Linked DNA regions of Homo sapiens. The protein of the gene in region 1 purifies or fractionates together with the protein of each later gene. This does not show direct contact. Each region holds a gene or a part of one and is shown on either strand. Other genes may lie near its edges.

Evidence for each region. Proteins that work in one complex are often made in the same cells at the same time.
Region 2: the proteins of COA5 (region 1) and POF1B purify together in Homo sapiens (affinity purification with mass spectrometry; one large-scale study listed by BioGRID and IntAct). This does not show direct contact.

Annotation. Positions count from the first base shown.
Region 1 is NC_000002.12:98,602,164-98,605,512, reverse strand, and holds part of COA5 (cytochrome c oxidase assembly factor 5), read left to right. Parts: intron 1-1,321; coding exon 1,322-1,405; intron 1,406-3,349. UniProt on the Homo sapiens protein: Involved in an early step of the mitochondrial complex IV assembly process.
Region 2 is NC_000023.11:85,306,666-85,310,165, reverse strand, and holds part of POF1B (protein POF1B), read left to right. Parts: intron 1-1,949; coding exon 1,950-2,042; intron 2,043-2,889; coding exon 2,890-3,003; intron 3,004-3,500. UniProt on the Homo sapiens protein: Plays a key role in the organization of epithelial monolayers by regulating the actin cytoskeleton. May be involved in ovary development.

The sequences.
Region 1 (3,349 bases):
TCAGGGCCTAGTCATTTCCCTCAGTCTTCCATGAACGCAGACACTGTTGATCTTGTGACTCTGTGCTGTGAAAATAGGAAAATATAGCAAGTAGGGTGTTACTCTCATATTCATGGTCCAAGACTGGTTTGCTTCCACATCATCAGGCCCGGCAACCTTATGGAGTGAAGTGAGGAAAGGGGCAAGCCTCTTTAAGGACCAACCCAGAAGTTCTACACCTGTTTCCCACACATTCCAGTGGCTAGAACTTAGTCACAGGACCACAGCTAGATGCAAGGGCGTCTAGGAGATCTCACCCAGCCATATGCTGGATAAAAAGGAAGAGCAGACAGCTAGCAGTCTGTTATTTGGGGTGGAGTGGATAACGAATGACTGTCTCTTAGCTTTAGTGTATCTAGATGGATCTTTACCCCAGGCAGTTGACAATATAGGTTGAAAGCTTTTGAAAAAGGTAGCATCTTAGATACAGTTTGAAGAGGCATCAGCTTATAAACTATAGTTATAACCTTTTATATGGTTAGTCTTCTTTTGTCTGCCTCCACGTCGTTCATGTGGGCAACACATCCCACCAGCAGAATTGCAGAGTTTGGAGAGGAAGGAAACCTGCTACTCTTATCCACTTTTGAGAGTCACTGAGGTAGATGACATTTGATATCTAGGACCCAGGCAGACATACAGACTGGAAGGTGGCCAAGACTCCTGGGGAACAGGAATACCACAGACATAGTACCCTGTAGCTTTTCATAGGAAAAACTGGCAGAGCGTGCCTGGCACTTGCAACATAAAGGTTCTGGGGAGTGGCTGCAGTGATGCGGCTGTAGAGTCAAAATCTGCTTGAGGGAAAATCCCTGATTATGCAGAGCAGATGAGCTTTGGGTTATATTTTTTCTGGTGCATGAATGGGCCACATGTTTCTATTTAAGTAGTATTCCAGCCTGCCTTGTTAATATCTTTGTGAAGTGTTTCGTGCCAACACTAAAAATATTCTGATTTTAGGGTACCCAGTTCACACATTTCACCCATAAGGAAATGAAGATAACCCTTTCTAGATTTTTATATAAACAGTTTAAGGAAAAGTATCCAATAGAAACCAGTGTTTTCAAGAATTCAACAGTGTCCTTAAAGTTCCCAAGTTACTTTACAATTTTTTTTTCATTCTTTAGGCACCAATAGCCCAAATGAATTAAGAACTATTTCCTACATAACTTTCTATTTTCCTCCTTTAACACTTTTAAAAAGGACTATTTTCAGAAGGACAATTATTTTGTACTTTGTGAGAAAATTTCCAAGGTGTTTATATTGTTTTATGTGTCTGTCATAGGAAGGAAAATCACCTCGGCAGTGTTTGAAGGAAGGATACTGCAACTCTTTGAAGTACGCATTTTTTGAGTGTAAAAGATCAGTGGTAAGTGGTTAAAGATTTTTAAAAGCCTATGCTAAAAATTAGCTATAGGGAGGTTAAATATATGAATGACTTAATAGTTATAGGTAAGTTGCAGTGATATGGTTTGGAAAAAATTACATAGATAATATTTCTTCCTCCAGTGAGTTAACGTTAGGTAGCGTTCATAAAAACCCACAGCTCATTGTTATGTTCTTCTGTCACCGTGCTAACTACAGCTGCTGAACTTCATGCATTTCTGAAAGTGTGAGAATGAAGTCTCGGCAGGTATATACGGGTAAAAGTTGATGTTGGCCACTCGAGTTCAGATCAGTTGGCAATTGTATACAAACATATAATGTGGAGCTCCAAGGTGTATACATTTGTGCCTTATGTGACTAAGAGAAAATGTCAGTATCTGTGTTTGAATTTTGGAGGGATGGATTGTAGAAATAGGGCCTAAAAAGAGATTACAAATCTCTGGGGTTCATTCTAACATTCTTTGATTTGGAAGATGTATGGAGATCTTTGGAATGGAAACTGAGACCCTTTTCTTGGAGAAATGTATAAAACCAAAAATATGAGCATCCCATTAAAGGAAGAAAGCACTTGGACTTGAGGATGTTTTTTTTTTGTTTTTTGTTTTTTGTTTGAGACGGAGTCTCACTTTGTCACCAGGCTGGAGTGCAGTGGCGCAATCTCAGATCACTGCAACCTCTGCCTCCTGGGTTCAAGAGATTCTCCTGCCTCAGCCTCCTGAGTAGCTGGGATTACAGGCGCCTGCCACTGTGCCCAGCTAATTTTTGTATTTTTTTAGTAGAGATGGGATTTCACCATGTTGGCCAGGCTGGTCTTGAACTCCTGACCTCAGGTGATCTGCCTGCCTCGGCTTCCCAAAGTGCTGGGATTACAGGAGTGAGCCACCACACCTGGCCTTGAGCATGCTTTTGTTTGCTTAGGAACTACACTGCAAATCCCTTCCTTTTTGTTAACAAAAGAAATGGAGGGTACTGATACTTACGACCTGCAAGTGGTTGTAAACAAAGAACTTGGAGCATGTTTGCCAGCTAATCAGATCCAGGGAGGGTGTAAAGTTAGATTAAATTTGGCCCTGCTCTGTTTACTTTCTTAAGTGACATCTTTTCCTGTCATTCAGTGTGAATAGAGGAGGATTTTCTTGCCTTCTCTCACATAGATTTGTTACCCATGTAAAATGCAAACCTTTAACTTTGTCAAGAATTTCAAAGCGTGTGCAGTAAACCCTCTGAAATTCTCTACCTAAAGCTCAGTCTTCGATCTCCAAAGAACGAAGTCAGATTTTTTTTTATTTTTACAATTTATCTACTTTCAGCAGAAATTTTTAACAATCTTACATAAAAAGTAAAATGATCTTACCATTTCTAAATATCAGTACAAGGCAGAGTTTCACATATACTTTGACACTGAGAAGAGCACCTTAGGGACCCTTTTTTTTTTTTTTTTTGAGATGGAGTCTCGCTCTGTTGCCCGGGCTGGAGTGCAGTAGTGTGATCTTGGCTCGCTGCAACCTCTGCGTCCTGGGTTCAAGTGATTCTCGTGCTTCAGCCTCCCGAGTAGCTGGGACTACAGGCAGCTGCCACCATGCCCAGCTAAGTTTTATATTTTTAGTAGAGATGGGGTTTCGCCATGTTGGCCAGGCTGGTCTCAAACTCCTGATCCACCCACCTCTCCCTCCCAGAGTGCTGGGATTACAGGCATGAGCCATTAACACCCGACCAGCTTAGGGACCTTTTTATAATCTTTCTCCAAGACCATGTTTTACTGTTAGTCCTCCAAAATGAGTAGAGTCATATCGCTGTTAATGCAACTTGTTATACATGCTTGGCAAAAAACCCAGAAATATAAACATTTAAATTGTGTGGGTAATTTTGTATGCTATTAAAGTGAGTGTGCATCTTATTGAAGGTGAGATGGGAAGTTTGAATCTGC
Region 2 (3,500 bases), on another chromosome or scaffold:
AGTGATTTTCAATTGACCCTGAACATGTCTGATCTTGTTTGATCTCAGAAGCTAAGCAGGATTGAGCCTGGCTAGTACTTGGATGGGAGACCTGGCCATTTTTATGTTGTGACTCTCTGGGTCTCATTCAAATATTCAAATATCAGAGAAAGTGTGTGCACTACCTATTACTGCCAGCTGGTGGTGGAAGTTGAGGTTCCCCCACTCAGCTTCTCTTGATGCGATAGGGTGAAAGCCCAAGCTCCCTTCACAGTCTCAACTGACATCACAGTGCATGGAATTTCATTTTTGGCCAGTAGGAATGAAAGCACCATTCTTCACTCTGTCTTTTCTGACACCATCCCAGTGAATGGTGTTGTGTACCTCCCTAGAGCCTGACAAGGGGGCAGTCTAAGCTCTCTTCTTGGCCTTTGGTGGTCCGTGTGGAAGTAGAGTTGCAATTTCTTCTGTGGTGTTTGGCTAAGATAGAGTGGTTACTATCTAAAAGTTTTCTGTCCTGCTAGGCTGACCCTTTCATGGTCCTTTGGTTAGAGAGAGAAGGCTTTTCTCAGGACTTTTGTTGTCCATTGATGTAACTAGATCACCAGCTTGCCCAACACTGATCTAATATATGAAGCAAAAAGAAAATCCAGGAACTCACTGCTGTGTCATTTCTCAGGTCCCAAGATTCCTAACCAATCATTTCTCTTTTCACCAATTTGGGTCTTTTTATATTTGTTTTATATATAATGTCCAGGGTTTTTAGCTGCAATTAACAGGAAGGCTAGGGAAAAGTATTTTTTTTCTTTTTTCTTTCTTTTTTTTTTTTGTGAAGCAACAAAAGTAGAGATTTATTGAAAATGAAAGCACACTCCACAGGGTGGGAGTGGGCTGAGCAATTGGCTCAAGTGCACAGTTATATAATTTTATGTGGTTTAAATGTCCTCTAGAGGTTTCCCATTGGTAACTTGGTGTACACTCTATGTAAATGAAGTAGTGGCCCGTTATCAGTCGGATTGGTTGCAGAAAGTGACCAATCAGAGGCTGAAGTTACAAAGTTAAACCTTAAACAACGTCTGATTGGTTGTGGAAAGTATTTTTACTCCATCTTCCCAGAAGCTGAAGTTGTCTGTTTTTTAAACCATTTTTCTTTAAAGAAATAAGAATAATCTAGTAAAAGAGTTTCCCCTCTCTTTAAAATTTGAGATAAGCCAGGTGCAGTGGCTCACACCTGTAATCCCAGCACTTTAGGAGGCCAAGGCTGGTGGATCACTTGAGGTCAGGAGTTCGAGACCAGCCTGGCCAACACAGTGAAATCCGTTCTCTACTCAAAATACAAAAATTCACCAGGTGTGTTGGTGCATACCTGTAGTCCCAGCTACTTGGGAGGCTGAGGTGGAAGAATTGCTTGAACCCAGGGGGCAGAGATTGCAGTGAACTGAGATCATGCCACTACACTCCAGCCTAGGCGACAGAGTGAGACTCTGGTAAAAAAACAAAAACAAAACAAAAAAAACCAAAAATATTTAGATAGCTCTATACTTTAAAGTTAAACTTAATTATAATTATATTCTTCTCACCTCAGGCAAAATTCAGGCAGTTGGCAATACACTTAGGGAGATTCATTTTATTATTTGATTATTGACTGTCTCATCTCTTCTAATCTTTTAAATAAAGAATAATGTAAAAATTAAATTTTGCTGATAGAATTCTACTTTGTGACAAAGATGATACTTTATCATGGAAAAAATAATAAATATTTGTTATAAATACTAGCTATGCTATCTTCAGGAATATTATTTGGATTACTTAAACACACTATTGACAAAATGCCTTATATCACCTTTCTAATTTGCCATATCAAAGTAAAATTATTAATAAGTTTGCTAGTAGGAAAAAAAAAACTTTCACTTATATTGCCTATTTTCAAATGTTAATAAAACTAAACCATTAATCCTTTCTTCCTGCAGATGAGGGGTATGTCTGATAAGTCACTCCGACTAGTGCTGTCCACATTTAGCAACATACGGGAGGAGCTTGGACATCTTCAAAATGATATGACAGTAAGATTTATTTTGATTTTTTCCAAAGCCTTTCTAGTTACTAGCTTCCTAATACAGAAATAAAGATGTCCAGTATATGTTTTTAAAATTTAATATAGCACAATATTATGCTTATTCAGACAAAGCTAAATTATTTTCTTCAAACAGTTAATTGGCATTGAGAGAGGAGAAAAGAGGTATCCAAAGTATAAATGAAAGAATGTTGGATGTGCACTTATCATTTAGTTTACCACTAAGGCAATTTAATGCTTAAAGCCAGAGAGTCATCTGCAAAGTTAAAATAATCTGACTCATTGGAGGTAAATTCCCCCTTTTTCATAATTATAAAGCATACTCTGAATTTCCATTCAAATATAATAACTTGAAAACATTTTTCTCCAAAAAATTAATTTTTTTCCATTTTCTATTTTAATTGGTGTTCTTGGTGCCATCAGCTAGATACATTCAGAATGCTTTCCACACATTGAATAATGCCTTGAGGACTTTGGAGTAGTTTTGTTGTTTCTGGGTTATGATGAACATATTTAGACTCTAATTTAAAAATTTACCACTCGCTGGGATTAACGAGGACTCTTTGTAGATTGGAGGAAAACATTAAAACATTTCAGAGGGTTGTGCTTCATTTCATGTATAGTTAGTCCATCAAAATGTCTCTTTCAATGAAGGTTTTAGAAGTTTCAATCATTTCCTATCCCGTATTTTCTTAACTTTTAAGAATTCTGCTTTATTAAGCAAGTACAAATGAAACAAGTGCTTATTTAAATCTTCCAAGGTAAGCAAGTCTTTGTATTATGTGACTGTTAAGTTTTTGCAATTCTGAATCATAATAAATAATTTATGCTTCTAGTCACTGGAAAATGACAAGATGAGACTTGAGAAAGATTTATCATTCAAAGACACTCAATTAAAAGAGTACGAAGAACTCTTGGCATCAGTGAGAGCAAATAATCACCAGCAGCAGGTAAACTGATGCTTTTATTGGTGTTAATCTACATTGATAGCTTTTCATATGCACAATTACTGGCACATTGGAGTTATGAGATATAATCAAGACAGAATTAAATATGATGGAAAAATTTGTTCATATGAGAATTGAGTGGCTTTGGGTATTTCTAATGGCTGAAAGCCCTCTCAGAAAAACAGATAATCTTATCTATTTTAGATATAAAGTACATATGGGACACAATTATTTGTCTTGTTGGGTGACCAGAATTGTAGAAATACTAAAAATCTAGGTTCATGCATTTATTTAATGTACTAACATGTCAATGAGAAAAGCTGTTGTAGACCTTAATACATGTTTGTGCAATAAATAAATGACTGAAAAAACTCTAGATGAATTCTCTGGATGTCTGAGCAGAGAGAATTCCTAGGAAATTGTAAGTAGTCTCTAAGGATTACCCTCTTCCTGATCTTTACTCCTATGGCTGTCCCAAATTCTTGCTCAGTTACTAGTTG